Homo sapiens: one gene and its partners. The protein of the gene in region 2 interacts with the protein of the main gene of each other region in a biochemical or structural test. Each region holds a gene or a part of one and is shown on either strand. Other genes may lie near its edges. The genes, in order: YWHAQ, TRIM25, DICER1, USP15, PLAAT4, ERCC2 and PITX2.

Region 1 (4,189 bases), on a different chromosome or scaffold from region 2:
AAGCTGCAAGAACTTCTTATTGCATGTGGGCTGTACCAGTCAGGGATTAGATCAATAAATGTGCCATTTCAGAGGAAAGAAAATGAACATAATTCAGGTCATAAAGGGATAGCTTAATTCTCTTACGTCAGTATCTCTAAAGCTGTAATAGGCCAGTGGCCTCATACAGAAAACTACCCTTTTCAAAACATGGGTATAATCAGATTAGTGTTGGTAATACTGAACATTTTTTGAAGGGGGAGTAACATTTTAATTAGGCTAGTAATCAAACTCTGGTCAGAGCAGATTTTGTCCTATTTATTGAAACTTTTATATTGCCTTTCAAATAATACCACTTGATACTAAGAATCAGTATTTCTGCAAATCAGAAAAATAGAGATTTTGGTGTTGATGATCTTTGTAAAGTTTACATTATTTAGGGAAAGGGTATTCCAGTCAAATTATTATTATTATTATTAATTTTGAATGGAGTTTTGCTCTTGTTGCCCAGGTTGAAGTGCAATGGCGCGATCTTGGCTCACCGTAAGCTCCGCCTCCCGGGTTCAAGTGAGGCTTGTGCCTAGCCTCCCAAGTAGCTGGGATTACAGGCATGCATCACCACTCCCATCTAATTTTTGTATTATTAGTAGAGACGGGGTTTCTCCATGTTGGTAAGGCTGGTCTTGTACCTCCAACCTCAGGTGATCTGCCTGCCTCAGCCTCCCAAAGTGTTAGGATTACAGGCGTGAGCCACTGTAAATTATTCCAGTCAAATTATTTTTAATTGCTGCATTTCCAAGTAATAGAATTAAAAGACATAAAATAAGAAAATAGTTTTAGCCTAGGTATGGAAAAAAGTCTGATTTACTATAATATCTCATGTTTTTTTTCCATTAAGCTGTTTATATGTAAGCAACATTCTAAACTGGTTTTTTGTTTTGTTTGTTTGTTTGAGACAAACTGTCACTGAGGTTGGGAGTGCAGCAGCATGATCTTGGCTCACTGCAGCTTCAACCTCCTGGGCTCAAGGGGTCCTCCCACCTCAGCCTCCCAAGTAGCTAGAGCTACAGGCACGCACTACCATGCCTAGCTATTTTTTATTATTATTATTTTTTGTAGAGACAGGGATAAGATCTCCCTGTGTTGCCCAGGCTGGTCTTGAACTCTTCAGGTTCAAGTGATCCCCCTGCCTCACCTTCCCAAAGTGTTGGGATTAGAGGCATGAGCCACTGCACCTGGCCATAAACAAGTTCTTAAATACCCAGTACACAATATTGTTTTTGTTTGTTTGTTTTTGACACAGAGTATCGTTCTGTTGCCCAAGCTGGAGTGCAGTGGTGTGATGTCGGCTCACTGCAACCTCAGCCTCCCAGGTTCAAGCGATTCTCATGCCTCAGCCTCCTGAGTAGCTGGGATTACAGATGCCCGCCATCACGCCTGGCTAATTTTTGTATTTTTAGTAGAGATGGGGTTTCGCCATGTTGGCTAGACTGGTCTTGAACTCCTGATCTCAAGTGATCCACCCACCTCGGCCTCCCAAAGTGCTGGGATTATAGGCGTGAGCCACCGCGCCTGGCCACGATAATGTTTTTTGTTAGCTACCATGATTTTAAAAGACCCATACAGAGAAAAAATCTTGGTTCTACCAAGAGCTAGTAGCATATGTTCAAGTTGTTAATGTACTGTGTACTGGATGGTTATTTTTAATATTGCACTTCTTATTTTTCGCTCTTCACAGAAACGATAGATAATTCCCAAGGAGCTTACCAAGAGGCATTTGATATAAGCAAGAAAGAGATGCAACCCACACACCCAATCCGCCTGGGGCTTGCTCTTAACTTTTCTGTATTTTACTATGAGATTCTTAATAACCCAGAGCTTGCCTGCACGCTGGCTAAAACGGTAAGATGTGTGTCCAGGAAATACGTACTTTAGCTACAGTTATTTGAGATACCAGGTATGTTAATTTATAGGTATTTTACTTGGATACCCAGGGATGATTTCTACTATATTTATTTTGAAATCTCCTCTTTTTCTTCCCATCATGATTACCTACTCCTACCCCTGACACCTTACTCTACCCTATGATTATAAGCAGTGATGTGCCTACAGAGCATACTGAGCAGAGTAATCAAAGAAGGATAAATGATGTTAAGAAGGAAACATAAAAGATTAGAAAGTCATGCCTGCCAGGTTTGGTTACTAGAATAGCTGTGCATCAGCCACATTCCTCAAAGTGGCTCAAAACGAGAGAATAAAGAGGACCCTGTAGAGATAAGTACTACTTAACTGGAAAGAAGTCTGTTAAGCATTGCTGCTGTTCCGTTGTCCTGTGAAAGAACCAAGACATGCTTGTTTACTAAGTGTATAGTTTTATAAAATTCCAGTCATACTCATAAGTTCTTAAACTGGGAGTGTGAGAGAATGGTTCTGTTGAGTTTGTTGATGGTAGAACATAAGGTGGGTGTTCACTTATTTTGTAAAAATGGTTTGTAATTGTAGAATAACCAGTTTTCGTCAATGCACATATTTTACCATGGATATTAATATTTATCAGGCTTTTGATGAGGCCATTGCTGAACTTGATACACTGAATGAAGACTCATACAAAGACAGCACCCTCATCATGCAGTTGCTTAGAGACAACCTAACAGTGAGTTGTTTACTCTTTTAATTTTATTTTCTTTTCAGAAACAAAAGTATTTATATTTTATTTTGGACTTCGTGTCTTTTAGGGAAGATACATACGAGCTGAAAGTATGAGATACGTGTTAGTATTTTATGGGACGAACATTATTTTGTAGGCAGGTTTTCAAGTTGAATAGGCATTTTATCAGACCTTCCTGAGAAGGTTCTAACATGATAGGAACTCAATATTAATATTACTATTTCATTGGGATGAAGATGTTGATAAATTATGTTAATAAAGAGCTTATCAAGTTTCAATATTTTGGGGCAAATCAGCTATAGCCAGTTAGGGACTATCTAAATATCTACGCTTTCTTAAAATCACAGGAAGTACCTTGTTCTAATAAAAGTTTACTTTGTGAATTGTGCATGATGTTCTACAAGCATTTAGGGAGTAAACCTATACCTAAACTTACTCCTTCTCTGCTTCTAGGCAAAAGCTTCTGTTTTGTTTGTCTTTTTCTCCCTGCTTCTTAGATAGGCAATTGATAAAGGAAGTAATCAAGAAAAAGTACAGCTTAAGCTTTACTTTAACATTCTTTTGTAGGTTCAAGTAAATTTGATAGGTAAAATCTTAGACTTCACAGAAGGAAAAAGAAGGGAACAAATCTTTTAATATAGATCTCGTCCTCCCAGCCCCCTAGTTTGGTGCTTTATCATTTACTAGATAGGATTTTTTAAATATTAGCACCATGTCTATTCAATTTTGCTGAATAGGGTAATTATGAATCCACTGAAAGGGGAACGAAGACCCTGCATTTCTAGCCATGAGAAGTGCCTGTGGTTGTGAGGGGACAATGGAAGATGATCAGCAAATAGTTCTACAGAGGAAGAGCAAATTAGGCAGTTATACCTCTTCCCAGATGTATACCTTGGAGCTAACTATCTTTTAATCGGTTTTGTTTTGTTATCTCTATTATGGAGACAGGTCTTTGGGGGATTTTGTTTTGTTTGTTTTTATTTAGTATCTTCATAATAATCTAAGGATTATGTAAGATTCTGGCTTTTCTGAAATTAACACTAATGTCTTGCTGTTGGTCTAATAAAGTGCAATTATAGTCAATAAATACTGACTTCTCTTCTTCACTTCATCTTCCTATCCTAAAATCAGAGAGATCCTGGAAGATCCACTTAGTTTTAACATTCTGTCTAATTCAAGAACCCTGTCTATACATGCACACATTGCTTCCCTGTAGCTTCCATCACCCACTTCTATTTAATTCTTGGAGAAACACAAAGTAAGTCTGCTTTTCCTATAGTTTAGCCCTTCACACACTTGAAAATTGTTAACCATGATTGTGGCTTTTTCCTCCCTGTGAAAATGTTTTGCTTTATTAGTCTGTAATAATAATGCAGTAGTGCTTTCAAGAAGAGCATTGGGCTGCTGGGAATAGAGACTATCACTTTGCTTATTCTGAAAGTAGAGTGCCTTTTTAAAAAAGTTTCTCTTTTTTTTTTTTTTTTTTGAGAAAGGATCTCACCCTGTTGCCTAGGCTGGAGTGCAGTGTCATAATCATGGATC
Region 2 (4,189 bases):
CTCTCAGATGACTGCAAACAGAAAGGTGGAGCAGCTACAACAAGAATACACGGAAATGAAGGCTCTCTTGGACGCCTCAGAGACCACCTCGACAAGGAAGATAAAGGAAGAGGAGAAGAGGGTCAACAGCAAGTTTGACACCATTTATCAGATTCTCCTCAAGAAGAAGAGTGAGATCCAGACCTTGAAGGAGGAGATTGAACAGAGCCTGACCAAGAGGGATGAGTTCGAGTTTCTGGAGGTAGGTCGCCACAAGGCATTGTTGAATGTTTTTTTTTTTTTTTTGCCTGATGTCATGCTGTTGATGATAGGGCCCTCAAGGAGCGGGAGACTGGAAGAGGTCACTGGAAGCATCCCTGAGACACACGCTGTATTAGTTTTCTGAGCTGGGCAACAACTTACCACAAATGTAGGGGCTTCAAAAAACACATATTTATTCTCTCAGAGTTTCTCTGGCTCAGGAATCTGGACATGGCTTTATGGGTGGCCTGCATAGGGTCTCACCAGGCTACAGTCTGCGAGGGATGGCCAGGCTGTTTCCTTTGGAGCTCAGGGTTGTCTTCCAGGCTCATGTGGTTGTTGGCAGAATTTAGTTCCTTATGGTTGTAGGACTGAGGCCCCCCGCAATTTCCTGCTGGCTGTCTCTCAGATTGATAGCTGACTTCTTCAAGGCCAGCATGAGAATTTCTCCTCTAGAAAGATGCAATCCCTCTTTTAAGGTCTTTTACCTGATTAAGTCAGGCCCACCCCAGATAATTGCCCTTTGATGAACTCAAAATCAATTGATTTGAGATGCTAATTACACCAGCAATATTCCACCCCCTTTGCCACATGACATAACCTAATCACAGGAGTGATATCCTATTTCATTCACCGTCCTGCCGATACTGAAGGGGAGGGCATACTATAGGGTATGTACATCAGTCGGGGTCGGGGGCTTGAGGGCCATCTTAGAACGTTGCCTGCCACTCACACTCCACCTCTTCCTCCCATCCTTCCTCCAGCAGCTCCTGGAAGTGTGTGTTAGTAGTCCCTTTTGCATTGCTATAAAGGAGTACCTAAGACTGAGTTATTTATTTATTTTATGTATTTATTTTGAGATGGAGTTTCACTCTTGTTGCTCAGGCTGGAGTGTAGTGGTGTGATCTTGCTCACTGAAACCTCTGCCCCCAGGCTCAAGTGATCCTCCTGCCTCAGCCTCCTGAGTAGCTGGGATTACAGGCGCACGCCACCATGCCCAGCTAATTTTGTATTTTTAGTAGAGACGAGATTTCACCATGTTGGCCAGGCTGGTCTCGAACTCCTGACCTCAGGTGATCCACCCACCTCGGCCTCCCAAAGTGCTGAGATTACAGGTGTGAGCCACTGCGCCCAACCAGACTGAGTAATTTATAAAGAAAAGAGGTTTATTTGGCTCACAGTTCTACAGGTTGTACAAGCATGGCACCAGCATCTGTTTGGCTTTTAGTTAGGCCTTTGGTGAGGAAGGAAGCTTTTACTCATGGCAGAAGGTGAAGCTGGGAGCAGGCATGTCACAGGGTTAGAGAGGGAACAAGAGACAGAGGAGGAAGTGCCAGCCTCCGTTAAACAACCAGTTTGTGCAAGAACTCACCTGTTACCATGGGGAGGGCACCAAGCGGTGCATGGGGAATCCACCCCCACGACACGAACACCTCCCACCCTGCCCCACCTCCAACACTGGGAATCACATTCCAACATGAGATTTGGAGGGGACAAACATCCAGACTGTATCAAAGTATCTGTCTAAAGCATGGGCCCCCTGCTGTTTCTGGCCTCATGTCCCTTAACATGGCCTGCAGGGTCCTAGGTGACTGGGCCCCGCCTGTGCCAGCAGTCTCATCTCATATCATCCATCCCTGGCTCATGCCCTATGCACTCACTGTTCCCCAGACACAGTGGGTGTGGGTGGGATGCCATGCTGGGCATTCTTGCCTAGTGAGTCGTATCCTTCCAGGGCCTTGGATCCCATTGCCATGCCGTATCGGTGTTCCCAAGCATGCCACACTGTTTCTACAGTAACATTGGGTGATGTTGTTTCAGATGTGCATTTTTTCATGGCTGTTTTGACTGTAAGCCCATCTCTTATTACCCCCATTCATCCTCCTGCCAATCTGACCAGCACATAGCAGAGTGCTTGGCATATAGTGGTGTGCCCCATTGATTGAGTGACCTGCAGCTATACCTGAAAGACCCAGATTCCTTGTTCAGATCAGGGGGTGGGGAGACAGTGCAGGAGTGAATGGGAACCTTGTCTCTGTGCACTGAGGCCTGATGCGTGCCTAGTCTGGATGGCGTTAAGTTTCATCCCAAGTGTTCATTCCTGTCTGTTGGAGCAGCTGCCCCGAGCTCTCGAAGGATCTGAGTGCACATCTAGGCTTCTTGATACTGTACAACCCTATTTTTCTCAAAGTTTGGGACTTCCAGGAAGACCCTCCCTTCCCATAAGATATTCCCTGGCTGCAATCCACATCCCTTGAGATGTCCCTGTCTGTTACCAGAATGTGTGATTAGAGCTGTTCCCCTAGGATTGGGGTGGTCCTGAGTTTCCTGTGCTTTTCCACCTTTAGCTGGAAAAGTGGAAAGAACATTGTCCTGGGGGATCGGAAGATCTCAGTCCCAGCTGTGTCTGTGCCCCTAGCTGGTGGAGTTCCTGCCATGTCTAGACCTCAGTTTCCCCATCTGTAAGATGAGTGACCTCTGGGGTCCCCTCCAGCTCCAGATTACTGTGTCTTCAAGTGTCATTTAAACTCCTGGTGACCTCTGGCCTGTAATTTGAGAAGGCCAATTGGACTTAGCACTCTTGGGCATAGGGGAGAGCCTCCTGGGGTTGGTGAGGACTGAGCCCAGGTCCCCGTTTCACCAGAGCTGCCTGCACTAACCCCCTGGCATGTTCCAGAAAGCATCAAAACTGCGAGGAATCTCAACAAAGCCAGTCTACATCCCCGAGGTGGAACTGAACCACAAGCTGATAAAAGGCATCCACCAGAGCACCATAGACCTCAAAAACGAGCTGAAGCAGTGCATCGGGCGGCTCCAGGAGCCCACCCCCAGTTCAGGTGACCTTAGCAGCCCCCTATGCTGCCCCCTGTGGAACCCTGCAACCCGATGGGTCCCCTAAATGTTTTGGGATGGGAGATTGGGGCGTGATCCCGAGCACTGGGGCCTGAGTTTCAGGGCTCCTGAAACATCCGCCCTCTGTCTGGAGGCTGGTGGGGAGTCTGCTTCATCCTGACATTTTAGGATCTTTCCTAAAGCATTTTTGGGGACTTGATGTTAATGCTTGGACTTTCTGGACAGATAGGCTCTTTTGGCCTGTGATCTTGAGGCCAACTTGGATGGGTTTTGAATAAGCTAGGGCTTGTTATTGTGTTTGGTGGGGGAATGGCCCGTTTGGGGGAGAAATCTAGAATTCCTCTTTGACACCCCCTTTTCATCACCCCATATCCAATCCATTGCCAAATTTCACTTCTTTCAATCTCCTGACTCAGTCTGCTGATCCTAGCACTGCTTGCCTGTTCTCCATTGCCATCACCTGTCGCCCCATGACTGTAGCAGCTTCCTAAACCCTCTGCATCTGCCGCTGCAGCCAGAGAGGGATTTTCATGATGCAGAGCTCATGTCCTGGGACCTATTCTGCTTTGCCCTCTCACTAGGCTTCCTATTACTCCCTGATGCAGACCAAACCCTTGACCCTGGTCTAGATGCCAGGTCAAGCCCTGTTGGTCTCTCTCCAGCCCCAAGGCGCCCCCCACTCTCCTCTGGTGCATCTCTCTGCATTCAGTTCCTCAAATATGCAAAACTTCCTGCTACAGGGCCTTTGTGTTTGCTCTTCCCCACTCTCCAGAAGGCTTGAACTCCACCGTCTTCACTAATTAACTCCTCTCACCCTTCAAAGATCAGCAAAACATTACATTTATAGCCAGCCTCCCCTGCCACTGCTCCCACTCCTCAGACTGGGCCCAGGGTCCTTGTCATCCTCTTGGGACTCTTGCATGGGTAGTATCGCATTCTTCCTTGGGATCCCCGTATATCTCCCTCATTAGGTTGTGATCTCTGTGAGGTCAGGGGCTGCGGCTTATTTATTTATTTATTCAGGATCTTGCTCTGTCGCCCAGGCCGGAATGCAATGGCGTGATTATAGTTCACTGTAACCTCAAACTCCTGGGAT
Region 3 (3,590 bases), on a different chromosome or scaffold from region 2:
TGACAGATGCAAAACATTTCAACAAGCTAAACACAGGAAAACTTTACAGCATTAAAAATCAGCAGCACAAAAGCGTTCATAACCATTTCATATGTCTAACTCGTACTTTTTTATTTTTTAACTCAGTAACCAGGGGATCACAGAATGCTTCAAACTGTGAGTCAAATTAAAATCTACTATTTTTCTCCAACAAAAAGTGAAACGGCTGAAGTTTGCTGTTGATAAAACATTTGAATGGTAGAAGGAAATTTGAACCCCTGAGAATGTATGACCTAATCATGTCTAAGTTTGAACATCTTAGTATTAACAAAAAAATACTCTTCTTAAGGTTACAAATATATTGAGGCATTTTTCTCCCACTGGGAATCATAACTGTGAAAACAATCTGATTTTGGTGCCAGGAATCAAGAGAATCCCGTAACACTGGGATCAATGTATTAGACACAATGCAAAGCCCTAAGCTCCTGGCATCAGGTAGTTTATAAATATTAAGAGATTTGTGATTAAACTTGATCACAAATCACCCTCAGAATAAAATTCACATCCAGCCTTGTTAACTGCACACTTTTACAGTTATATAATTCAAGAATTGCTTTGTTTTAACTGGTCATATCTTACATTAAGGTTTTTTAAAAAATCAAATAGACATCTAAGGTTCCAAATCGGAATTAAATATTTTTAAAACAAGTCACCTAATTTGCTCAAAAACTCGTTTAATAATTTAGATCTCAATTTAAGTTTAAGATTGGAGACAACAAAAAACACTGGAGAAGCTTAATACCCCCCTCACTCAGGGTTCCTTAGAAAGCAGAGCTGACAGTTTTCTGTCGGTGCACTCGCACAGAGGCATTTCTCTGTGGGTGGATGATGCAGATAAAGCAGGAAGGACAGTATTCAAATGTCACTTACATATAAATGCAGCATTCCACGAAGCATCAAGTTCAGAATCATGTGCTGGGAAATATGAGACACCTCTGCTCAGCTTTCTTAAACTTCAAGCATAATTAACGGGGCAAATTGCAGCAAACCTCTACTGGTATGTTGATGGGAGTGCAAGACTGACCCACAGCTTTTAAAAAGGTAAATTAAGAGGTATTATAGTTACAGTGCAAAAAAAAAAAAATTAAAATTTCAAGCATAATACATAAACATAGCACCAAACAGGGGAAAAATGCATGCAAAAGAAAAGAAGAACTGAGGTATTTAAGTGAAGAGTGCCTACAAGTCTAATTAAAGAAACTTAGGCAAATGCCTAAAGAAGTTTTTTTTTTTTTCCTTTTCCAAAGATGGAAATAATGAGCTAGTTTATCTAAATTAATGACCTAAATCACAGATGTATCAAAATTACGGCAGTTTATCGCAAACGTTAAACTTTCACGGCATTAACAGCACAGCTTTGGTAGGTGAAATATGCATGCAACATTATGAAAAGTATAGTAAGAAATTTATGTGAGGAGACTAAGGGTAAAGGTGCTGTGTTTTGCTTCTTAAATAAGTAACCAATCAATTATAAAATCTGCAGCATATTTTAGGTGTGATATGTCTAAGGTTTATTTTGTTAGAGCAACAGCCTAGAAGGCAAAATTATTTGCCATAAACATTTCCATCAGTGGGAACTACCTGGCAGGAGGACTTTAGTAAAATGGGGTGTTTAGCCAAAGATCATTTTTATGATAAAAAATATCCGTAGACTACATATTCTGGTTTTTAAAATGTCTTCAGTATACATATGACAGAAATTTTAGTATGATCCTGTAATAAGTTACAACTATACTAGTGAGTTGTAAGTATCACGCTGTCTCAACGTCTAATGCATAATAAAATGAAAGGAATGTAAAACAGTTTGTTCCAAAAAGATCAGAGATTAAAGACTATCCATGAAGGTTTCACTTTTAAGGCAAGAACCCTTTTTTATGCAAGACTATGTGGCATCAGAAAACTAAAATGTGATTCACCAACATGCCAGCCAATGTTCATTAAAAATCTGTCCCTTACTATCAGGTGCAACAGCGACCGGGAACATCACCTTACACAGTATAACGTGGAAAGAAAAGACAACATTGGCGCACTTCTCCTCTCGAAAACCTTATCTTTCTATTCAGCTTATCAACTACTGCAGGACTGGCACTACTGCACACACGGAGAGATGGAGAAGAATCTACATCATCCTAGGGACTGCTGGAGGTTTAAGCTCCATGGCCTTCTAACACTAAGCAAAGCTGACATAAACTCAAAAAAAAAAAAACAAAACCTGTCAATTATTTTGAGCACTTGCTAAATGTCATCATTAAAGCACTCTTGTGATTTAAACAAAGCAGAAGTGAGGAAAGAAGATAAGATTGTGTTTGCGCAAAAAACTAAAACTACAATTAGTTCCAAAATTTTATACATATGTTAAATGTTTTATTCTGTTATCTATCCTGTTATCAACCAAACTTTAAATTCTGCCTTCAATTCATTCCACTCACTAACAACTTTAAGTCTTCCTTTCCGATTTAAATAATTTTCCCCTTAATTTTTTTTGTTTTGTTTCTTGTTTTGAATTTTAAAAAGCGGTTTCAGCTATTGGGAACCTGAGGTTGATTAGCTTTGAGGCTTCGGAGGGCTCTTCTTGCTGCTGCAGATTTGGCAATCCTGTAACTTCGACCAACACCTTTAAATTTCCCCTTTCCTACTACTTCCACAGTGACTCTGACCTTCCCGTCGTAAGTTCTCTCAGCCGGGCTGTAAAAAATCCAAACAGCTTGAATTAGAAGTCAGAAGTATTTATTATCATTGTCAATCAGCATTTAGTGTGCACTCTCAGGCCAGGAGTCCCATGTATAAGCTGACACCACACAAAGGAAACACGCGTTACGACTTACTGCAATTGCATACCCCCGACAGACAGGGCTGCCGTCTAGTCTTTATTACAGCATTATTTCATAAAAACAGAAGGAAAAAAGAGAAGTCAATCAGATTACAAACAGAAATCTGACAACAGCACACCACAGTGTAAATATTTTTCAGAATCATTAGTTTACAATATCTTTGTGAACTTTTCCCCTTTGATGTTTTTAAGTTAATGTTTTTTCCATGTACATTTTTTGCTTACCTAAATTTGGCAGTTTCTGGTTCCATTTCAAGCAATTCTCGCACAGGGGAACGGGGTACATTTGCAGAAAACTTTTCTGCAATCAAAATGAAAGAATAATATGAATAATATCTCTGAAGTTGTTTTTAATTTTGTGGGTTTTTTTCTTTCTAAAGGGAGCCAACAATACCTATTAGTGGCCGCATCATGGGATAGTACACCTGCCAGACTGTCTCCAGTGACATCCCACTATCCATGTAAATGGCACCAGCAAGCGACTCAAAAATATCCCCCATGGCCTTTGGAACTTCAATATCCTCTTCTTTCTCTTCATCCTCCTCAGATCTCCTAAGCTATTACAGAGGGAAAAGTGACTTGTAAGCAAAAAGGCCACTTTTACAGGCAGTCCACAGATGTAGTTTCTTTTCTTGGATATATGACTTTTGTTACTTCTTTAGTAAGGGGGGAAATACCATTTATGGTATGCCTACTATATTGTAATAGTAAAACAAATGTT
Region 4 (4,189 bases), on a different chromosome or scaffold from region 2:
TAGAGCCCAGATTTGAGATTTTCTAATACCTGTCTTCCAGCACAGATTTGTGACCTATGTCTTTTTTGCATACTAAAAGAGAAATAATCTAGCCCTCATTATGTCTTTAAGTATTTATTTGTATATTAATTTGTAATGGTTTAACCTATTTGGAAAATGTCTTGAAAATAAAAATAATAAGAGTTGCTTTCAACCTGGTACATATTAGGCATACTATAATTGCCCACTGAATAAATGTAGAACTTTCCAAACATTTTTGTTTATTATTTTCATTAATGGGGGTTGTTTGTACCTCTATCAAGTGTTAAATACTTCTGTTTATTCTTAGGTATTGTCCGAATTGTAAAGAACATCAGCAAGCCACAAAGAAATTGGATTTATGGTCCCTGCCTCCAGTACTTGTAGTACATCTCAAGCGATTTTCTTACAGTCGATACATGAGAGACAAGTTGGATACCTTAGTTGATTTTCCTATCAAGTAAGCTTTAATTGTACTTTATAAGCATTGGGCAACTCTTCTTTCAAACTTATTTGATGCTTTTTGTTATTATCCTTTAGTAAACATCAGGTGCCATTGGACCCAATTTCAGCTTTCAAGTTTGTTTTTGAGTAGTTCTAACAGTTTATAAGGATCAGTGTTTCAAAATTTTTATTTTTTCTTAGAGATTTTCCAAAGATCAAAGAGAAAATATACTTTAAAAAAATAAAAACAATAAAAATCCTTCTGTGTTATATTACCTATGGGTTAATTGGTCTCATTTATAAATCTAAGATACTTTATGGTACTTAGTGATTTTGTTTATCCTAGGAATTACTTCATCATTACTCATCACTTACTCCTAAATATGTTGGGGTTTTTTGGTGTTTCTTTTGTTTGTTTTTTGAGACAGGGTCTCACTCTGTTGCCCAGGCTGGAGTGCAATGGTGCAATCTCGGCTCACTGCAACCTCCACCTCCTGGATTCAGGTGATTCTCCTGCCTCAGCCTTCCAAGTAACTGGGATTATAGCCACCCGCCATCATGCCCGGCTAATTTTTAGTACAGACGAGGTTTCACCATATTGACCAGGCTGGTCTCGAACTCCTGACCTCAAGTGATCCACCCGCCTTGGCCTCCCAAAGTGCTGGGATTACAGGCATGAGCCACTGTGCCCAGCCCTAAATATGCTGTTTTCAAAAAGACTAAAATAAAACAACAATGGAATTGCTTAGAAGGATAACACAGTAGTGAAATAAATCATCCCTATTGCATTATCCTTCAGTTTTCCTATTGCCATTATATGACATCATATTTGTAAAAAGATATATCTATGGCCATACCACCTTGAACGTACCCTGATCTTGTCTGTAAAAAGATACAAAGAAGTCTGTATACATCTTCACACTTTATCTCTCTTTTTTTCTTCCCCTGCTTTTAACAGTTGAGAATTCAGAATGACAAAAAGGGAACATTGTATTCCCCGTCACTTAGTTATTCAGCAGAAGGACTTCATCACACAATATTTTGTACAAGTACTTGGTACTATCCCATTTTGCAAAAAGAACTTTCAGCGGTATTATTTCATATCCTGTGATATTTGTACACCAAAATGTACTTGATACAGTTAGTAAGTAGACAATTGCTAAAGGCAGGTGTATCTATAAAGGTAACTAGAAGGAAATAGATTACATAAAACAAAATATTCACTGGATTACTCATTCTAATTGGTGGCTATAAATTTAAAATTTAAAATTATTTGTAATTATTGAGTGAAAAAAAGATCATTTTCTCTTTAACAAAATAGTGAGCCATAAGTTTTCAAGAATATAGCATTTGGCAATGTAAGTATAAGAAAAAGAATCAGGGCTGGGCACAGTGGCTCACGCCTGTAATCCCAGCACTTTGGGAGGCCGAGGTGGGTGGATCACAAGGTCAGGAGAGCAAGACTATCCTAGCCAACGTGGTGAAACCCCATCTCTACCAAAATTCAAAAACATTAGCCGGGCATGGTTGTGCGCGCCTGTAGTCCCAGCTACTCGGGAGGCTAAGGCAGGGGAATCGCTTGAACCCAGGAGGCGGAGATTTCAGTGAGCTGAGATCGCGCCACTGCACTCCAGGCTGCCTGGCGACAGAGCGAGACTCCCTCTCAAAAAAAAAAAAAAAGAATCAGAAGTAATGACAAACTAGAATCTATCAGAGATGTATTTAAAATTTAGAATCATTATTGCTTTTTAATGATGCAAATACAAGAAGAACAACCAGAAATAATAATAAGCTATTTACAAGAAGTCGTTTTCCAGGTTCTTGAATGATAGATTTTGATTAGTCAGTTACATTCAAAGGATGTTGCCCATTTCGGGTATATAGGTCATCAAAGACAGCAAATGTAGAATAAAAATTAAGGTTTGATATATTAATATTTTTTAAAACTTCTAAGGAAGTTTTCACTATTCCTGTATTTTTCTTCATATAAATCACTTCCTCTTTTTTAATCTCTGACCCTGCCCATAAATTACTTTCTAAAATTGACTGTAAAATAAAGATCTACTGGACCCAGATGGTCAATAGTGATGACTGTTTTTCCTGGTATACTGAGAGTTAAATGTGTTAGCATGAAAACGTTTATCTGAATGACAACATTCCACATTTTTATTTTATTTTATTTTTTTATTTTTGTGGGTACATAGTAGGTGTATATATTTGTGGGGTACATGAGATGTTTTGATGGAGTGTGAAATAGTCACATTATGGAGAATGGGGTATCCATCCTCTCAAGCGTTTATCGTTTGTGTTATAATCCAGTCACACTCTTAGTTATTTTTAAATGTATAATTAAGTTATTATTGACTATAGTCACCCTGTTGTGTGATCAAATAGTATGTTTTATTCATTCGTTTTTTTTTTTAACCCGTTAACCATCCCCACCTTACATCTCCCCTACCTTCCCACCACACTTGTCATCCTCTAGTAATCATCCTTCTACTCTGTCTGTCTATGAGCTCAATTTTTTTTTATTTTTAGATCCCACAAATGAGAACATGGGATGTTTGTCTTTCTGTGCCTGGCTTATTTGATTTAACATAATCTCCAGTTCCATCCATGTTGTTGGAAATGGCAGGATCTCATTCCTTTTTATAGCTGAATAGTACTTCATTGTGTATATGTACCAGATTTTCTTTAGCCATTTATCTGTTGATAGACACTTAGTTCCATCAACATTGCAACACATAGTTTCGTCAAATCAACAAGATTTGGTTGTTTCCAAATGTTAGCTGTTGTGACCATTGCTGCGACAAACATGGGGAGTGCAGATATCTCTTCAGTATACTCAATGAAGCATTTTAAAATTTTCAACCCATAAACAAATGTTTGCCAAAACATTAATATCTCAGAGGTACATGTATGATTTGTTTTGTAAGTTATTTGACTCATGATAATTTCCTTAGTGAGATATATATATATATAGATAGATATATATAGATGGATAGATATAGATATATATATGTATGTCAAACAACAATGGCAGAAGGGAATAGAATTCATTGCATTTAGGGACAACATAAAAATTAACTTGGTTTCTTTTTTAAACAGTGACTTGGATATGTCGGAATTCTTAATTAATCCAAATGCAGGTCCTTGCCGCTATAATCTGATTGCTGTTTCCAACCACTATGGAGGGATGGGAGGAGGACACTGTAAGTTGACAGTTTGCCTTTTTACCCAAATCATGGTGTTTGAAGAACTCCAGACTTTTTTCTTTAAGATATTTATTACTTCTTAAGGATAAAATATCAGATGTGTCTTGCATATAGTAGTTCAGTATTGATTAATGAATGAGTCAGCTTTTGAACCTTTTTTTTTTCACATAGGGTATAGAGAATTGAGTTCATCATACTCCTCAGTTCAAGGCCTAGTAGGGAATGTTGTCCCATTTAGAGTGCATTTCCCTCCACGTTCTCCTTCCCCTTTGCTTTCTAACATGTTTGATGCATATACTCTTGTAAATCATTAATATTTATTCATTTATATAATTGGTACTGTGCTGTAGATATCACTAGGTCTCGACACTTATGAAGACTTATCTGTGTTGCTTTGTGTCCATTTAGTCAGTTGTTTCTCACTGCTTATGATTTACATCTGCCATATTTTATCTCTCCACTTACCTCATGATAGACATCTAAATTCCCTTTCACTTCCTACCACTGTAAGA
Region 5 (4,189 bases), on a different chromosome or scaffold from region 2:
GTCTCAGCTATTCAGAAGGCTGATGTGGGAGGATCACCTGGCCTGAACTCGGGGAGGTCAAGACTGCAGTGAGCCTGATCCCTTGCATGTGCAGTTCCCAATGGGGTTTGCACTCCTATGAGAATCTAATGCTACTACTGATCTGACAAGAGGCGGAGCTCAGGCAGAATGCTCACTCACCTGCCTCTCAGCTCACCTATTGTGTGGCCCGATTCCTAACAGGCCACACACAGCCCAGGGTTGGGGACCCCTGCTTTAACTGATGCATTGATTTGATAAAGTATTTTACAAGCCTGATAATGTTATAACCCTATTTATTCAGGTCAGATTTATGCCAACTTTGCTGAGAATATGGAGGGTATAGATGAGTGAACATCAACAAACATAACTTCTACCGTGGTTAAGAATTTTACTTAAGAAAAGTATTGAAGTTCAAATCCAGGTAGTATTACATTTGAAATTTTTATAAGGGTTATTAATTTAATAAAATTCATTATCAGGTTTCCCCTATAAGCTTTCTCCTAGGTTAGTTTTCCACAAGCATTGTTTTACATACACTGTAATCAGGATAACACAAGCTTAGTGTTAGATCTTGTAGGAAACCAAGATTAGAAGCATTAGAAATGTGCAGAATTTAAGAAATTATGTTTTGTGGTAATCTGTGGCCAACGATGATAGAACCTAGTGCAATTGTAAAGTGAAATTCAAGGAGAAGGAATGAGGAGTTAGGCAAGCAGCACACTTGAATATTAGTGAAGGAGAGGAGCTGTGAGTCAGGAATCAGAGAGACCTGCTAAAACCAGACAGATATAAACACCAAAGACGGAAGCCAAATAGGTAGCCAAAAATCCAGATATTTGAGAAGCAGGAAATTTACAGCAACCAAAGAAATAGGGCAAGATAGGCAGGTGAACACACATGATACCTCAATTGACAATCTTCCTCCTACCAAGCCAGACACGTTGTAAATGCTGCTTCCCATTGGAGCCCAGAAAAAAGGAAAGTTTAGGCTTTCTGTGTCCTATGTGTGGAAGCAGGGAATTGGATTGAAGACTTTCATAGTTGTAAAATAAAGGCAAATCCTGAGGAACTCACTGATAGAGATGTGAAATGACAGTACGGAAGAAAACAGAATAACTATATAAATATATTAGTCTAGGGCCACTTAATTTAGAGGAAGAAAAAAAATCACCCCATCCACAGAAATAGTTTGATAAACAGGTCACTAAATAATTAGCATTTATAAAGATTCTTAGTTATCAAGGGCTGCATTGTATTTTATATACTCAGTTTTATAAGGCGATACTTTTAAATAAGCATTTTAATGAAAATGGTTAAACTGAAAATAATTTTGGTCCTTAAAAGGAGTCAGGAGCTTTTATATATAAGGTACATATTTTAAAAGAATACCTCCTTTATAACAGGGTTTTACAGACACTACTGTAATTTATAATCATTGTTTTTTACTTTTGGGTTCACCTAGATCGTATGAGTTGGTATGATACTTCCAGAACAAAATTATTCATAATGTGTTTTTTGTAATTTATGATTTTTAAGTAAGCTTGACTTATAAATTGACATTGTAATTTTGTACATAATTGGATATATGTGCTAAAATTTAACATTTAGATTTATTTAATTGTAGAAAATACAAATGTAAAACTTATACATGGAAAGAACTGTATGCAGTTGACTTTACCATGGAAATTGGAGGGAAACAGTTTTAGATCAATTTTCTTTCAAAATTTTCTTTATTGTAAAGTATGCAAAATATATATTCATACCATTTATTAAATCAGAATGTTTATGCAAAAAAAAAAAAAAGACTGCAGTGAGCTGTAATCACATCACTGTACACCAGCCTGGATGGCAGAGTAAGACACTGTCTCAGAGGAAAAAAAAAAAAAAAAAGGAAAGAGAGAAAAATTGTCTTTAAAAAGCCTCTTTACGGCTGAGCGCGGTGGCTCATGCCTGTAATCCCAGCACTTTGGGAGGCCGAGGCTGGTGGATCACGAGGTCAGGAGATCGAGACTATCCTGGCCAACATGGTGAAACCCCATGTCTACTAAAATACAAAAAACTAGCTGGCTGTGGTGGCATGCGCCTGTAGCCTCAGCTATTCGGGAGGCTGATGCAGGGGAATCGCTTGAAACTGGGAGGCGGAGGTTGCAGTGAGCTGAGATTGCACCACTGTACTCCATCCCGGTGACAGAGCAAGACTCTGTCTTAAAAAAAAAAAAAAAGCCTCTTTACACACTGCAAGTTAGGCACAAAAAGGACCATGTGTCTTCATTGCCATGCTTTGTCTTACAAGGTCCCTGAGGATCATCTGGATTAAGTGGGCTTGATTTACTATTTTCCATCAATTCAGACATTTTTACAATCCTGCCTGGGAGATGATGGCTTGGAGAAAACTGATAAGATGCAAATGTCTTGCCCTGATAGTGATGGGAATGGTTTTTGTCCAGTGACAATGTAAATGCTTGGTGAAAAGAGAACATGAGAAGTTATGTAGTGGCACTGCCCTAGAGGATATGAACTTGCCTGCACCTACCTAATTTGGCAGTCTCATTGTCTCATTTCTGCATTTTTGTTGTTGTTTTTTGAGACAATGTCTTCCTCTGTCTCCTAGGCTGGAGTGCAGTGGCACTGTCTCAGGATCTCGGCTCACTGCAACCTCCGTCTCCCAGGTTCAAGCAATTCTCCTGCCTCAGCCTCCTGAGTAGCTGGGATTACAGATGCCTGCCACCACCCCCAGCTAATTTTTGTATTTTTAATAGAGACGGGGTTTCACCATGTTGGCCAGGCTCGTCTTGAACTCCTGACCTCAAGTGATCCGTCCGCCTTGGCCTCCCAAAGTGCTGGGATTATAGGAGTGAGCCACTGTGCCTGGCCTCTGTGTTCGTTTTTTCCCCTTTCATTGGCTATCCATACATACGTTTCCTTCATTCTGCTTTTAACTGGGTATGTCATATTTCTGCTTCTGTTATTAATGAGTTAAATAAAACATTGGTATTGCTTACTGTGTATTTGTATGAGAATTTTAAAAAAATGTATAAACCTGTGAGAATTGCTCCCAGTAAGGAATCTTAAGTATATAATATCAAGACACCTTGTTGTGTGAAAACATATGAGGCAAAGGATCTGGCACGGAGAAACATTGTTCCTTTTGAGAAACTTTCTTCTTTAAGACCTAAGAAACCTGGCTGGTTTAAGTCGTATGAGATTCTGCATGCCAAGGTAACTGACTTTGAGCTGGAGAGATCCCAATGCTGAAGCAGCCCAGCTTCGCTGCGGGAGGCAACGGTCTCTTCTTCCGTTCTGCCAGGACCTATGGAATGCACTGTGTCTACTTCATGGGACATATGTGTGTGCAATCTCATCAAGCATCCTCTAAGAAGAATGTGTCTCCTAACTCAAGTTTCCCTTGCTTAACTGTCTTTCAGTGGCTCTCATTGACTTATTTTTTTATTTTTTGAGATCAAGTTTTGCTCTTGTTGCCCAGGCTAGAGTGCAATGGCACGATCTCGGCTCACTGCAACCTCTGCCTCCGGGGATCAAGTGATTCTCCTGCCTCAGCCTCCTGAGTAGCTGGGATTACAGGTGTGTGCCACCACACCTGGCTAATTTTGTATTTTTAGTAGAGATGGGGTTTCTCCATGTTGGTCAGTCTGGTCTTGAACTCCTGACCTCAGGTAATCTGCCCACCTCGGCCTCTCAAAGTGCTGGGATTACAGGCATGAGCCACCGTGCCCGGCCCTCTCATTATCCTTTTAACAAATATTTTGAAAATTATATATTCATCAGTCCTTACTTGGAGGAGCCAGATGGATCACGTAGCCATCTCCTATATACAGGGCCCAGTGCTCATAGCCAAGGCGGAAAATCTCAATCAGGTCTCCAGGTTTGGGCTCTTGGTGTGGCTGCAACAGAAAAGCCAGAGATGGAGTACCCGGCCTTCTAGGCAACAGCAGAGACCCTGGCTGGGGGAGCTGCAGCTCATCCTGGAGACGCCTTGCTGATGTTCATCAGCTGCTAGCCCCATGAGATCCTCAGCCCTGCTGTCACTTTCAGAGGCTCTTCTCAGTGGGGGCACTGGGGGCTGGAAGCCTGGAGAATGATCTTGTGGGATGGGAGACAGAAGGACCGTCTGGGCGCATGTGTGACATGTGTGTGCTGTGTGTGTGCA
Region 6 (4,189 bases), on a different chromosome or scaffold from region 2:
GTTGCTGATGATAAAATTGGGTGAAATGTTGCAGCCGATGCCCTTAGCATGTACAAAGAGCTAAAAGAATGTTAGAAATTCTCATGATAGGCCAGGTGCAGTGGTTCACGCTTGTAGTCCCAGCACTTTGGGAGTCTGAGGTGGGCAGATCATTTGAGGTCAGGAGTTCGAGACCATCCTGGCCAACACGGCGAAACCCCATTTCTACTAAAAATACAAAAATTAGCCGGGGGTGGTGGTGTACACGTCGGTAATGCCAATCGCTTGTACCCAGGAGGCAGAGGTTGCAGTGAGCTGAGGTCATGCCACTGCATTCCAGCCTGGGTGACAGAGTGAGACTCTGTCTTAAAAAAAAAAAAAAAGAAATTGTCATGATATTTATATGCATAATGATATATGACAAATACAATATTAGTTATCATTAAATTATGCTATAAAATCATTGTACTTGGCTGGGCATGGTGACTCACGACTATAATCCCAGCACTTTGGGAGGCCGAGGCGGGTGGACACCTGAGGTCGGGAGTTTGAGACCAGCCTGGCCAATATGGAGAAACCCCGTCTCTACTGAAAAAAAATTGAAAAATTAGCTGGGCACATGCCTGTAATCCCAGCTACTTGGGAGGCTGAGACAGGAGAATTGCTCGAACTCCCGAGGGGGAGGTTGCAGTGAGCCGAGATCGCGCCACTGCACTCCAGCCTGGGCAACAAGAGTGAAACTCCGTCTCAAAAAAAAAAAAAAATTGTACTCACTGTGTGCCAGGCACTGTTCTGAATACTTTACATGTGGTAACCCACAGAATGTATATATGTGTATATATTATACTTACATATATATGTGTGTGTATATATGTTTTTATATGTGTGTGTGTGTGTGTGTGTGTGTGTGTGTGTATATATATATATATTTTTGTTTTGTTTTGTTTTTGAGACGGAGTCTCACTCTGTCACCCAGCCTGGAGTGCAGGGGAGTGATCTTGGCTTACTACAAGCTCCGCCTCCCGGGTTCAAGCAATTCTCCTGCCTCAGCCTCCTGAGTAGCTAGGATTACAGGTGCCCCACTACACCCGGCTAATTTGTGTGTTTTTAGTAGAGACGGTGTTTCACCATGTTGGTTAGGCTGGTCTCTAACTCCCGACCTTGTGATCCTCCCGCCTCAGCCTCCCAAAGTGCTGGGATTACAGGCATGAGCCATCGTGCCCAGCCTTATTTATTATTATTATTTTTGAAATGGAGTTTCACTCTTGTTGCCCAGGCTGGAGTGCAGTGGCGTGATCTCGGTTCACCACAACCTCCACCTCCGAGGTTCAAGTGATTCTTCTGCCTCAGCTTCCTGAGTAGCTGGGATTACAGGCACCCACCACCACGCCCTGCTAGTTTTTTGTATTTTTAGTAGAGATGGGGTTTCATCATGTTGGCCGGGCTGGTCTCAAACTCCCACACTGGGCCCACAGACTATATATTATATCACATTATTTGTAAGAATATGTGAGAAATAATACATCTAGTGGATGACAAAGAGCACAGGCCTCGGTGACTGATGAAAGGGGAAATGGAGAAGGAAGGGCTGGCTGCCTTGGAGCTTTCCTTTTGGCGTAGGAAAAGGATTTGTTCTTCAGAAAAAGCCTTAGGCTGTGATGGTGCCTTAGAGGGTACAGAGCAGGTCAGGGGTAAGGGGAGTCCCAGACTGTGTGGAACCTCCTTTGATTCTTAGGCCCTGCCAAGGTTCCATGCGTTTTGGCATTTCCAAGGATGAAGTAGTTATCTTCAACCTATATGCTAAAGATTTTTCAGGCTTATTGTTTTAAAATATTAGTTTTGGGCTGGGCACGGTGGCTCACACCTATAATCCCAGCACTTTGGGAGGCCGAGGCGGGTGGATCACCTGAGATCAGGAGTTCGAGACCAGCTTGATCAACATGGAGAAACCCTGTCTCTACTAAAAAGACAAAATTAGCCGGGTGTGGTGGCACATGTCTGTAATCCCAGCTACTCGGGAGGCTGAGACAGGAGAATCGCTTGAACCTGGGAGGCGGAGGTTGTGGTGAGCCAAGATCGTGCCATTGCACTCCAGCCTGGGCAACAGAGCAAGACTCCGTCTCAAAAAATAAAATATTAGTTTTGGCTGGCTGGGCGCAGTGGCTCAGCCTGTAATCCCAGCACTTTGGGAGGCTGAGGTGGGAGGATTGCTTGAGACCAGGAGTTTGAGACCAGCCTGGGCAACATAGCAAGACCTCATCTCAACTAAGAAGACAAAAATTAGCCGGGCATGGTGGTGCACACCTGTGGCCGCAGCTACTCGGGAGGCTGAGTGGGGGAAGGATCACTTGAGCCTGGGAGGTCAAGGATGTAGTGAGCCGTGATTGGGCCACTGCATTCCAGCCTGAGTAGCAGAGGGACTTGTCTCCAAAAATATGTATGTATAACTTGTAGTTGTAAGAATGTAACAATTTTGCTACTCTTTTTTTTTTTGAGAGGGAGTCTGGCTCCGTGGCCCAGGGTGGAGTACAGTGGCATGATCTCGGCTCACTGCAACCTCTGCCTTCTGGGTTCAAGGGATTCTCCTGCCTCAGCCTCCCGAGTAGCTGGGATTCCAGGTGTGCACCACCACACCTGGCTCATTTTTGTATTTTTATTTTTACTTATTTTTTTGAGATGGTGTCTCACTCTGTCGCCCAGGCTGGAGTGCTATGGCACGATCTCTGCTCACTGCAACCTCCACCTCCCGGATACAAGCGATTCTCCTGCCTCAGCCTCCCGAGTAACTGGGATTACAGGCATGTGCCACCACGCCTGGCTAATGTATTTTTAGTGGAGACAGGGTTTCACCATGTTGGCCAGGCTGGTCTCGAACTCCTGACCTCGTGATCTGCCCACCTCAGCCTCACAAAGTGCTGGGATTACAGGCGTGAGCCACCGCGCCCAGCCCAATTTTACTACTCTTGTATCCCTGCATTAAGTTCCCACGCGTCTTAACTAATAATGCAACAGACTGAGGTTCAAGTTGTCCAAAACCCCAGCCAGCTGGGAGGTGTGGAGACCAGGGTTTGAAGAGTGGTTGGGTTTCCACCCTGTCTGGGTGCTAAGATGCCCCACACCCCCAGGTGACACCCCTGCGCTTTGGGAAGGACGTCGATGGGAAATGCCACAGCCTCACAGCCTCCTATGTGCGGGCGCAGTACCAGCATGACACCAGCCTGCCCCACTGCCGATTCTATGAGGTTACTGGAGGGCAGGGCTGAGGGAGGGAGGCAGGACAGGTAGCCTGGGGCAGGCAGCCTCCCTGACCCCTGGCACTCTTGTCCCAGGAATTTGATGCCCATGGGCGTGAGGTGCCCCTCCCCGCTGGCATCTACAACCTGGATGACCTGAAGGCCCTGGGGCGGCGCCAGGGCTGGTGCCCATACTTCCTTGCTCGATACTCAGTGAGGAGGCTGGTGGGATGGGCAGAGGGGCGAGTGTGAGGGTGTGGGCTGCCCGCCCGTCTCCTGTCTGCCCATGTCTGTCTGTTGCTTGCTGTGAGTCTGCCTGTCTGCATCTCCCTGTTGGTGGGTGCCCGTATCTGTTGGTCTGTCTCTATCCATCTGCTCATACTTCTGCCTGGCCTGTGTCTGCCTGTGCAGGCCTGTGTGGGAGTGACGGGCCAGTGTGGCCAGGGGTAGGGGTAGGGGTTGGGGTGGCAGGGCCCTGGTAACCCTGCTCCCCGGCCCCCCAGATCCTGCATGCCAATGTGGTGGTTTATAGCTACCACTACCTCCTGGACCCCAAGATTGCAGACCTGGTGTCCAAGGAACTGGCCCGCAAGGCCGTCGTGGTCTTCGACGAGGCCCACAACATTGGTGAGGGGGGCGCCAGGGGCCAAAGGGATGCCAGCCCCTCTGAGTGAGGCCCCTGCAGGCCTGCCTGAGCCGGCTCTCTCCCCCTTCTCCAGACAACGTCTGCATCGACTCCATGAGCGTCAACCTCACCCGCCGGACCCTTGACCGGTGCCAGGGCAACCTGGAGACCCTGCAGAAGACGGTGCTCAGGTGGGGCCGGGGACGTCTGGCGGTGGTGCCCGCCCTGCCCCTGGGACCCTGGCCCCTGTCTGACTTGTCCCCAGGGTTGCCAGCCCCCTCCCAGCCCCAGCTCATCTCTCCGCAGGATCAAAGAGACAGACGAGCAGCGCCTGCGGGACGAGTACCGGCGT
Region 7 (3,844 bases), on a different chromosome or scaffold from region 2:
ACTTTGTAGCAAATCTGTACTTTATGGATTGGCAAAAATGAGCTCAAATAAATAACCCAATAGCAACGTCCTGGTTTATGCTGGTCGGTGGAAGATTCCAAATTTGTTAGGATTCTGGAAGCAGAAAACAGAATCAAGCAAATCAAGCGGCATCCAGAGGCTTTGCTGTTAAAAAAAAAAAATTAAGTGCTCTGGGTAGAAAAAATAAAGCCCCCGGTTAGAGCAGAGCAAACAAAAAGAAGAAAACAACGATAAAAAGAATAAAGACCAAAATGCTCTCCCAAATCAGAGGGAATGAAGACACTCTCTGGGTGGCATTTGTGCAAGGCATGAGGCTATGCTGGTGGATAAAAGGCCGGGAAGAAGTTGAAAATGGTTTTAGTTTAACTGTCCAGAGCCAGAGCTGGGTCCTGGGCGGCGTGGTTTTGAGCAAGGTCAGTCTTTCATTAGCTCTCTTGCACATCAAGGGAACGGGCCTCTCACGTACTCTTCTCGCCTGAGCAAAGTTTAGATGGCCTAGGGTAGAAATGGCAAGTAATTAAAGACAGAGTCTATGGGTTTTCTGGGATCCTTCGAAAACGCCCTCCCACCCCGCCCGCTATTCCGCAGCTCCACCCTAGTGCTTTGTAGCCGCGGCGCTGGGCTCTCCTTGCAGCTGCCTCTCCTTCCAGGGCGGCTGCTTGTCGAGCCAAGTGGGAGTGAGGCGTGCTTTTTATAGCAGTCGGGTGCAAAGAGGAAGGGGGATAAAAAGGAAATCAAGAATGAAAGGAAAAAGAGAAAAAGCGGATTACACGGCTGGGCCCGGCGGAGATGTGTAATGTGAAACATCACTGGTGTCAGCTCGGATATCTCAGGCCAGGCCTCTCTCCAATACACAAAAGCCGCCGTCTGGGGCGACAGGGAGGCCCGATGTGGATTGGGATCGGGGTTGCGGCTGGGCCACCGGACACGGGTGGAAGCCGGCCGGCCTGGGTGGCCGCCTGCAAAGCCAAACGACCCGGCTGGGCCTGGCGCGCGGACAGGCCTGTGGTGGGCTTAGGGTAAAGAAGAGGCAGAGCGAAAGAAGGGGGAATCTCCAAAACTACCCTTTCCGGGTTCCCGGAGTTTAATATGCCAAGCTCCTGGAGTTAACGAGCTGACGAAGAGGTGGTCTTTTGCTCTTTATTTGGTTGTTTTGCTAGGCGAGAAAGAGTGTTGGCGGCCTAGTCCCTGTTAAGGGAGCACGTACCAGGGGGTGGGGGACGACAGTGGAGGTCAGGGAAGGAAGGGAGGAATTGCGTGGGAGAAAGAGCGATCCTCTAGTGCCCTTCCAGCCCCTTCTCCTCATCCGTGGGTCTGTGGCTTTGGAATGGAAGCAAGTTTGCAAGGTGCCCCGGGAAGGGTTGGAAAAGCCTGCTGCCCCGCGTTTGTTTTACATTAAGTGTTTTTGGACCTGGAGAAACGCCTGGCTGAGTGATCAAACCGTCCGCAGGTCTCCATGCGTTCGGCTGAGGTTTGTGGCGTAGCTCCGAGTCCCAGCTCGCAGGCCAGAGCAGACCAGGTCTCCTGCGCTTGGTGGAGACCCGGGCCAGTAACTGAAAGCTGGCCCTGGTATCTTGGTGTGCAGGGCGGTGCAGTGAAGCGAGGCCAGGGTGTGTGAGTGCGCTAGCGTGTGTGTCGGGGGAAGGCGGGGGTTGGCCTCCGATGGAAGTTTTAGTAATCTGCACTGTGGCATCTGTTTGCTCCCTTGCCCCAACCGCCCCCAGGTTTGGTTCAAGAATCGTCGGGCCAAATGGAGAAAGAGGGAGCGCAACCAGCAGGCCGAGCTATGCAAGAATGGCTTCGGGCCGCAGTTCAATGGGCTCATGCAGCCCTACGACGACATGTACCCAGGCTATTCCTACAACAACTGGGCCGCCAAGGGCCTTACATCCGCCTCCCTATCCACCAAGAGCTTCCCCTTCTTCAACTCTATGAACGTCAACCCCCTGTCATCACAGAGCATGTTTTCCCCACCCAACTCTATCTCGTCCATGAGCATGTCGTCCAGCATGGTGCCCTCAGCAGTGACAGGCGTCCCGGGCTCCAGTCTCAACAGCCTGAATAACTTGAACAACCTGAGTAGCCCGTCGCTGAATTCCGCGGTGCCGACGCCTGCCTGTCCTTACGCGCCGCCGACTCCTCCGTATGTTTATAGGGACACGTGTAACTCGAGCCTGGCCAGCCTGAGACTGAAAGCAAAGCAGCACTCCAGCTTCGGCTACGCCAGCGTGCAGAACCCGGCCTCCAACCTGAGTGCTTGCCAGTATGCAGTGGACCGGCCCGTGTGAGCCGCACCCACAGCGCCGGGATCCTAGGACCTTGCCGGATGGGGCAACTCCGCCCTTGAAAGACTGGGAATTATGCTAGAAGGTCGTGGGCACTAAAGAAAGGGAGAGAAAGAGAAGCTATATAGAGAAAAGGAAACCACTGAATCAAAGAGAGAGCTCCTTTGATTTCAAAGGGATGTCCTCAGTGTCTGACATCTTTCACTACAAGTATTTCTAACAGTTGCAAGGACACATACACAAACAAATGTTTGACTGGATATGACATTTTAACATTACTATAAGCTTGTTATTTTTTAAGTTTAGCATTGTTAACATTTAAATGACTGAAAGGATGTATATATATCGAAATGTCAAATTAATTTTATAAAAGCAGTTGTTAGTAATATCACAACAGTGTTTTTAAAGGTTAGGCTTTAAAATAAAGCATGTTATACAGAAGCGATTAGGATTTTTCGCTTGCGAGCAAGGGAGTGTATATACTAAATGCCACACTGTATGTTTCTAACATATTATTATTATTATAAAAAATGTGTGAATATCAGTTTTAGAATAGTTTCTCTGGTGGATGCAATGATGTTTCTGAAACTGCTATGTACAACCTACCCTGTGTATAACATTTCGTACAATATTATTGTTTTACTTTTCAGCAAATATGAAACAAATGTGTTTTATTTCATGGGAGTAAAATATACTGCATACAAATTGGTCTGGATTCTTTCTCCCCTCCTCTGTCACTAACTTGGCCAGGACATCTCAGTCACTGCTTCCTAAACAAACCAGTTCCCTCTGCCTGCCTAGTTAAACATACAAGGCAGCAGTCCTTATTTAAATTTGGTAGAAATAAATGATAGCCATTCATCAGAAACTAAAAAGAAAAAAAAAGGCATTCCCGGGGGGGAAAAGGGCTACAAAATCTAATTTTGTCTCTCCAATTTTTCTTTGGCTTAAACCTAGAGGATTCCATTATGGCTAGCAAATAATATGAAAAAGAAAAAAGAAGAAAGAAATTTAGCAAGTCCATCAGCTTAAAATGACTCTCAAGTTTACTCCTTTACGGGGAAACCTACACCTCTAGCAAATTGTTCTGGAGAAATATTTGTGCATGTATACATGTATAGTTTATATGCATTTCTCTCAGGAGGAATACATCTATAATAAATTTACAGGGAAACATCTCCAGTTCAAAATATTTAGGCTTCCACGTTTATCTTCAGGCTTAAGTAGAGAGATCCTTCATGTTATATTGCATTACTATTTCCAAATCCTTTGGAGACATTAAAAGAAACAAAGATGATTTCTAATAACTACAGCCCTTCAGTTTCTCAAAGAACTCAGGGGTTGAGAGGTTAGAGTGGAGTTTCCTGAGTCTTGTCGAGCAATATGTAGTTGAGGCAAAGGTCATGCTCCCGGTGTTTTGTTTTAAATAATATTGACCCATTAATTCTAAACCTGCTTGTTCCTGAAATTATACAGGATTATAGTTTGCAAACTGCAGGACAATGAAGCAAATCAAGATGAATTACAGCCCTGGCCCT

Evidence for each region.
Region 1: the proteins of TRIM25 (region 2) and YWHAQ form a complex in vitro, tested with the Homo sapiens proteins (one study listed by BioGRID).
Region 3: the proteins of TRIM25 (region 2) and DICER1 form a complex in vitro, tested with the Homo sapiens proteins (one study listed by BioGRID).
Region 4: of the proteins of TRIM25 (region 2) and USP15, one has a biochemical effect on the other in vitro, tested with the Homo sapiens proteins (one study listed by BioGRID).
Region 5: the proteins of TRIM25 (region 2) and PLAAT4 form a complex in vitro, tested with the Homo sapiens proteins (one study listed by BioGRID).
Region 6: the proteins of TRIM25 (region 2) and ERCC2 form a complex in vitro, tested with the Homo sapiens proteins (one study listed by BioGRID).
Region 7: the proteins of TRIM25 (region 2) and PITX2 form a complex in vitro, tested with the Homo sapiens proteins (one study listed by BioGRID).

Annotation. Positions count from the first base shown.
Region 1 is NC_000002.12:9,585,857-9,590,045, reverse strand, and holds part of YWHAQ (14-3-3 protein theta), read left to right. Parts: intron 1-1,717; coding exon 1,718-1,881; intron 1,882-2,536; coding exon 2,537-2,632; intron 2,633-4,189. UniProt on the Homo sapiens protein: Adapter protein implicated in the regulation of a large spectrum of both general and specialized signaling pathways. Binds to a large number of partners, usually by recognition of a phosphoserine or phosphothreonine motif.
Region 2 is NC_000017.11:56,900,307-56,904,495, reverse strand, and holds part of TRIM25 (E3 ubiquitin/ISG15 ligase TRIM25), read left to right. Parts: intron 1-7; coding exon 8-241; intron 242-2,917; coding exon 2,918-3,077; intron 3,078-4,189.
Region 3 is NC_000014.9:95,087,940-95,091,529, forward strand, and holds part of DICER1 (endoribonuclease Dicer), read right to left. Parts: intron 3,427-3,590; coding exon 3,264-3,426; intron 3,171-3,263; coding exon 3,095-3,170; intron 2,725-3,094; coding exon 2,559-2,724; 3' UTR 1-2,558. UniProt on the Homo sapiens protein: Double-stranded RNA (dsRNA) endoribonuclease playing a central role in short dsRNA-mediated post-transcriptional gene silencing.
Region 4 is NC_000012.12:62,392,725-62,396,913, forward strand, and holds part of USP15 (ubiquitin carboxyl-terminal hydrolase 15), read left to right. Parts: intron 1-328; coding exon 329-478; intron 479-3,570; coding exon 3,571-3,674; intron 3,675-4,189. UniProt on the Homo sapiens protein: Hydrolase that removes conjugated ubiquitin from target proteins and regulates various pathways such as the TGF-beta receptor signaling, NF-kappa-B and RNF41/NRDP1-PRKN pathways.
Region 5 is NC_000011.10:63,539,250-63,543,438, reverse strand, and holds part of PLAAT4 (phospholipase A and acyltransferase 4), read right to left. Parts: intron 3,924-4,189; coding exon 3,815-3,923; intron 1-3,814. UniProt on the Homo sapiens protein: Exhibits both phospholipase A1/2 and acyltransferase activities. Shows phospholipase A1 (PLA1) and A2 (PLA2), catalyzing the calcium-independent release of fatty acids from the sn-1 or sn-2 position of glycerophospholipids.
Region 6 is NC_000019.10:45,364,074-45,368,262, reverse strand, and holds part of ERCC2 (general transcription and DNA repair factor IIH helicase subunit XPD), read left to right. Parts: intron 1-3,104; coding exon 3,105-3,221; intron 3,222-3,308; coding exon 3,309-3,425; intron 3,426-3,715; coding exon 3,716-3,839; intron 3,840-3,931; coding exon 3,932-4,028; intron 4,029-4,143; coding exon 4,144-4,189. UniProt on the Homo sapiens protein: ATP-dependent 5'-3' DNA helicase. Component of the general transcription and DNA repair factor IIH (TFIIH) core complex, not absolutely essential for minimal transcription in vitro.
Region 7 is NC_000004.12:110,616,590-110,620,433, reverse strand, and holds the end of PITX2 (pituitary homeobox 2), read left to right. Parts: intron 1-1,745; coding exon 1,746-2,309; 3' UTR 2,310-3,011; downstream 3,012-3,844. UniProt on the Homo sapiens protein: May play a role in myoblast differentiation. When unphosphorylated, associates with an ELAVL1-containing complex, which stabilizes cyclin mRNA and ensuring cell proliferation.